Linked DNA regions of Homo sapiens. The protein of the gene in region 1 purifies or fractionates together with the protein of each later gene. This does not show direct contact. Each region holds a gene or a part of one and is shown on either strand. Other genes may lie near its edges.

What was found.
Region 2: the proteins of DNAJC24 (region 1) and NUP88 purify together in Homo sapiens (affinity purification with mass spectrometry; one large-scale study listed by BioGRID and IntAct). This does not show direct contact.

What each region holds. Positions count from the first base shown.
Region 1 is NC_000011.10:31,414,778-31,418,614, forward strand, and holds part of DNAJC24 (dnaJ homolog subfamily C member 24), read left to right. Parts: intron 1-33; coding exon 34-172; intron 173-3,837. UniProt on the Homo sapiens protein: Stimulates the ATPase activity of several Hsp70-type chaperones. This ability is enhanced by iron-binding. The iron-bound form is redox-active and can function as electron carrier.
Region 2 is NC_000017.11:5,384,247-5,386,748, forward strand, and holds the end of NUP88 (nuclear pore complex protein Nup88), read right to left. Parts: coding exon 2,462-2,502; intron 2,095-2,461; exon of another isoform or gene 2,024-2,094; coding exon 1,960-2,023; 3' UTR 587-1,959; downstream 1-586. UniProt on the Homo sapiens protein: Component of nuclear pore complex.

The DNA.
Region 1 (3,837 bases):
CTCACCCCCTGCACCCTTCTTTTTGATTGGCAGTATCATCCAGATAAACAAAGTACAGATGTACCAGCAGGAACAGTGGAGGAATGTGTACAGAAGTTCATCGAAATTGATCAAGCATGGAAAATTCTAGGAAATGAAGAGACAAAAAGAGAGTATGACCTGCAGCGGTGTGGTAGGTGCTTGTGTTGAGGAGCCACAGCACATCGGCAACTCTTAGAAGCACACTCTGCAGCCATTCCTGGGGAGCATTTTCCAGCATTTGCACCAAGTGTTATTGTTGCCTTTATTCCTCCCCTCCATCACTGTTTTTAATTATGCCCTATTCTTAGCAGTGACTATTGTGTATCCATTGAGAAGTTAACAAAACTACTAGGATGTGGCTTCTTGTGAAGCCTTGAAAGCTACTTTTTATAACATTTGAAAAATGTTTAATTACACATTACTAACTAATATGCTTTATATGTTTAAAAACTTTTTATTAAAATAAATATGGATTAACATTTTAATTGTACTTTTAAGACTATACAGTATAAATGACAATCCAAATGAAGATACTATATATCAGATGACATCATAAAGCACTCTGCTGTCTTTGAGCTCATTTTAGGCTGGGTTTCATGATTATCTTCATGATAAACTATTCCTTGTGATTGGTATAAATGATATTTTAGGAATGCACATTACCTAAGCAATTTTAAAAGTCATTTCTTTTATGCTTTTTAGAAAATAGCTTTTTAAAACAGTGACAAGCTGTTATGAGAAAGAAAGAGGGAAATGTAGGTCAGGTTTGTCACACATGGACTGCAGTTACACGAAGTGATAGGCTGTCTTTCAGCACTGGCCTAGGGACAGGAGTCCCTCAGCCTTGTGTTTGAACCTTCAATATGCACCCCACATGCTAATGGGAGGAGTCAATAATCAGTTACAGCCTGTGGGGAAAACACTCAGTCGCTCTCTCCAATAGCATATCAGGCTCAGCATTGACTGGGATGTGTTGATAAAAGCTGTCTCGTAGTCGCTTATTGAATCCCCTCCCATGCCCTACAATGGCACACCATCAGACCTCACAAAATGATTCTGAGGCTTTGTTAGTACTAAGGTTATGAAAATTTGATTTGAGAAGCAAGCCTTTATTTTTAAAACACAGCATTATAAGATGAAGCCAGTGACATTTGCAAGACATCCCTATTTATTTTCAGAGGGATTTCTACCAAGAAAATTAAGGTTTCTTATAGGCTGTGTGATACTTCTGTGTGGAAAGACTTGAACTGTTTATGTACTGGAGTATTTGTTTATAAGAGTGACTTATTTATAGTACTAATCAGCTCAAAGGCTTTACTACTTTTTAAAAGACTGATGAGCTTATTTTTTTCTTAAATATTAAGAACCTGATGGGTGTACCTTTGCTTTTCAAAGCAAAGGTTAATTTTCAAAAATGGCTTGAATATTGGGTTCTGCTTTTGCTGGGTGCATAATGAGCATCTGTCTAATGTATTTATTTTTTAAACATGTTTGTACTTTTTGCAAAAGAATGTAGAAGTGGCTTCGTTTGATGATAAGTTCTACCCGTTGGTGTATCTTTTTAACCTTGGTTCACATGATTTCTATGAAAGAATTGAAACTAATGCACATGAATGTGTTGTGTGTTAGAAGAAATCTACATTCCTAAAGCCACTACGCTCTACTGAAGATGATGATTCTTTCAGGTGTTTTTGCACATCTTTACTAGTCTCTACTATATAGGATGCCAGTTTGCTTGAGATAAAAATAATTCACACGACATTGTACCCTAAAGAGTATAGGGTATATACTTTCAATGTTGCTCTACATTTTTGCCACTCCACAGCCTGTGTACTATTAAGAACATATTAGTGAAGTTGACTAGAAGCCTGCTCTCTAAAGAGGTAGGGAGGGATCAGGAATCATAAAAATATTTTCTCAAGAAGCTACAGGGTGGGGTAGGCCAGAAACCAAAAGAAATAGGAAACCAGGTTAAAAGTTAGCAGAGAATTGCATGAAGAAAGATTTGAGAGATGTCAGAAGACAAATAATCATCATATTCATGCCTTTTTCATTGTCTTCGAAAGGTCCTTGGAACTGCGGATTTCTTTTGAGCTTTGAGTCCTACTTTTAAGATCTTAATGGAAGCACCTGTGGCCTACTGTGTCACAGGGTACTCCTGTAGGTCATAGATGAAGTCACAATGAAGTTTAGACAAAGTAAATACTGTGAGAGTTGGACCTGATTCATGATTCAGATAAATAGTTTGGAATTTATACAATATCAGTTTGCTCTGCAAGTTTTTCAGGCAGCATATTACTGAATTTAGCTGTTCTAGAAGGACAGCTTTTCATGACACTTTAGTACCTCAGATTTAAGTACTAAGTATTGCCTCTTTTACCAGAGGCTCCAAATACTGACACTACTTTGTTTCAATTTTAAATGGAGATTGACATACTGTTTAGGTAAGAAGAGTATCCAAATATAACTTGCTATTTTTAAGCCTTTCATACCAGAGCTATTTTTCAAAACTCTTACAATAAACCTACTTTCATATTGTTATTTCTTTTGAATACCGTTATTAATTTTTTCTTCTTGACTCAGCTTCAGTAAAATGGCTCCTCAAAAAAAGGAAATGAACTTGAACATCTCTAAAAGTGAGGATTTAGGTTTGCTAGAAGGAAAACCTTTGAGAGTAATAATTTGTTAAAGACCAGGATAGGTTACCGAGAGAGAGAGTTTGTTATAACCAGGTCAAAGCACTCTTTTTTTCTGGGTCACCCCCTGGGGACATGGAAATAGCTTTGTTATACAGAACTCTTTTTACATGTGGTGATAATTCATTGTAAACCTTTCTTTTCATAGGGGTGTGCTTTAAATATGTTTGTTTCCTGCCCACCATTAACTTGCAGTATAAAATAAAATTGAGCTCTCTAGTACTTGGGAAGGAGGTAGGAAATGCTTTATTGGCTGGTCTTGAATGCTTTCTCGTGTTTCATAGCTCCATGTTGGTGCTCTGTCTTAAGGAAAGCCTCATCAATATTGCCCACAGCCATATATTTATCTAAAAGATAATTTAAAGGGACACTTGACGTCCATATTTCTTTGCTTCTCAAAAGAAATGATCATATGTGTTCTTTCCAATAAAGAAAAAGTAATACTCCAGGGCAGATAACCCAAAGTATTGCATGTATGTTTTTTTCTCCTTCATTCCTACTTCTATATGCTTAGTTGACATTTTAGAGCAATGTTGGCCAGGCTGAAGAAAAGTAAATTTAAGAAAAGAATGAGTAATAATTAGTTCCCAGAGATTATACATTTCGAAAGCAATGTTAACTCTGAATTTAATCAATTAGTTCTAGTTGGCATATTAAACTTATTGTTTCTGAGGATGCCTCCAAAGGCTGCTTCCAGTGTTCCCCTGAAAGGCATGTAGTTTTTCAAGATTAGGCTTTGCATTTCAATTTTAAATGGAGATTGACCTACTGTTTAGGTAGCACTTTGGAAAACCCTTTCAGGATTTATAAAATGTTCACATGAATAATACCTGTTGAGTAGATTTTGTTGCCTTTATAAATCTTGTGGGGAGTTGTCCTTATATATTAAGCACATTAAAAACACATCAGAAGTATATCATAGGAAAATAACAGTTGTCATGATTCAATAGCTTTGTAATGTGAAAGTCACAGATCTCTGATGTCTTAGTGGCTCTATACAGTGACACAGCTTATGAGTTAAGTACTTCTCTGTGATCTGAAGAGTAGCAAACCTTGAAATACATTTAATCAGATTAAATAATGTTTAAAAGAATAGATTGTGTTTGGAATCCTTGCTGAT
Region 2 (2,502 bases), on another chromosome or scaffold:
ATCTGTCTTGTCATTTTACAAGCATTAGATTCCTTTCCTGTGTGAAGAAAGCCTCAGTGAAACAGGTCTTTGCCATAACTTTATGAAGTGCTACAGAAAGCACAAAGAATTGATTCATGTTCATCAATACCTGCTGAGAGTACTGTCCCAGGAATATCCAGTGGATGGATTCATCATCCAGGAGGTTCAAAAGTAAGATGGTTTTCAAATCATTTTTGAGACTGGTTGCATAACAGCAGGGTACCTGAAAGAGCCTTCTGGGAGTTAGTGAACTAGGTAGATTGTTTTGTTCACATAACGCCACCATCAACTTAAAGTGAATTGTCTTTGTTATAAATGAGGTCACTATGGACTTACCCTAAAGATCTTCTGTACTTCTGTCTTCCATAGGACAAATGATAAGTACTACATACCTCATCTCTTGGGTTATTATTGTAGTCTTGCATTCATGGTTATGAATTTAAAAATAAATACCAATTATGGAAATAGTACTAAAGGCTTGCCGCACATGAAACATTATTTTAATTGGTTTAAAGTCCCTTTATAAAGAGTGCTACATGGTTTAGATAAAGGAAACATATAACTATTGAGTTACAGGGGATTTTATTAATTATAAAATGCAATCAATTTAAATTACGTAGGTTTAAGACTAGTCCCTTGGATAAGCCCCAAGCGAATTTGTCTTCAGATTATTAAAATTAGTGCTGTAAATCAGGGTGGGCAATTCACAGCCTTTCTGAACTGACTGAACTAGAGCTTGCAGTGAAGTGTTCTGCTGAGACTGAGCACCTTACAGATATTTTTCTCCAGAAGATGGTGCTGGGTAATAAAATCATCACAATTAGGGAATGGTTAGTGGTCTCTACTGTGGCAAATGCCAACTGTTGGAATTCACTTTATTGTAGAAAAACCCAAACTGAGACTCTTAAGTTTTGTTTAGCAATGTGTTTCTGGTATGAAACAAACTACTGTGTCACTGTCCAGGTAGGAAACAATTCTTTCAACTGGGTTTTCAGCATAAATGGGAACTGATGTAGAAGGCAGGATTTAGCCCTTCTAGGCAAAAGAAAAGCTCAGTTGGGTTTCACGAGTGTTCCTGTGCTTATATTCAGTCTGTGCCTACATGTTCTCATGCATGTCTAACCTGATTTACCTCTTACCTGTAACCTACCTTATCATGTGGCTTTTAATTGACAGTCACTCAGCCATTTCTAAGCAGATATAGTAGTACCTTTCAGAACTCACATTGGCAAGTGTAAAAAGATGACTTAAGGTGAAGTGAGGACAAAATCACATTCTGCATACTAACCTATTTTTTTCTCCCTTTAAGGTGCTAAACTTGCACCTCATGTCCACTCAGTAACAAGTATTGGGACGTAGAGCACAGCCTCACTCAGCTCTGAAAGGTAATACAGCTTGTGAGGAAGTGAGCCAGCAGTGGCCTTTGCAATTGTGGATCTTGAGCTCTGCTCTCAGCAGATTTCAGGTGTAACCATTTGTTAACTGTACTGAAGGTGTGTCCTCAAGAAGAAAGTGTTCAAATTAAAAAAGCTGCTGCCAAGTACACTGTGTGGTCTTCTCCTTTGAATCCTAGGGTTCTATCCCTCTTCAGAGTCATGTTTCTGGTGCTGCTACTTTAAAACACAGCTCACAAGAATAACTAACTTGCTCAAATATGGAGAAAACTCAATAGGGTTCAGGGAGGTTCTGGCAGTGTGCAGTGTGAAATAATCCTGAGTCCTTGCTGAACACAACTGTAGGCTTGAGTTATAAAGCACATTCCAAATTTTAAATAAAAGCATTTACTCAATTATTATAAAACAACATATTTAAAAAGATGAACCACACCAAAGGTCATCAAAACACCTTTTTATAAATTAGATAATTCTACCTGTTTTACAATATGGGTTTAAGCCTTCAATGGTGTTCAGTTCAGGTGTGAGTCAGCTCCTGGTGGTGTCAGAAGTTTACATGATTGCGGATATCATTGATTTGCTTCACCATTTCCCTTATATGTTCACCCCTGTAAAATTGTAAAGTCACTCACTTTTGGAATTATAATAAACCATTTATATGGATTCTTAAGAATTTAAACTGGTAATGTTGAAACATCTAAGAACTGCTTTGCTAAAATTAACAGCTGAAGGTTTCAGGTGGATAGCAATAGTGTTCACTATTCATTTAAGGTGGCAAACGGTGCAAGTACTGGAAATATTTTTGAACATAATTACTGTAAAATACCTTTGGCCACACAACAAAATCATGTTACTAGAAGGTCATCCCTTTCAATCCTCCCACCATAGTCATTTCTTAAGTCCCTATGTATCATGTGGCTCTCATCCCAGTAATTACTTGACATGCAAATACCAAGATTCAGGTTTCTATTAAGACAGGTTGATTCTGGCATACTGTAAAGGAAAAACTATCTCACGATAATAGCTGATTGGAAGTATTTACTTACTCCTCTTTCAGGATGGACTGAATGCACTTTCGCTGGTAGGC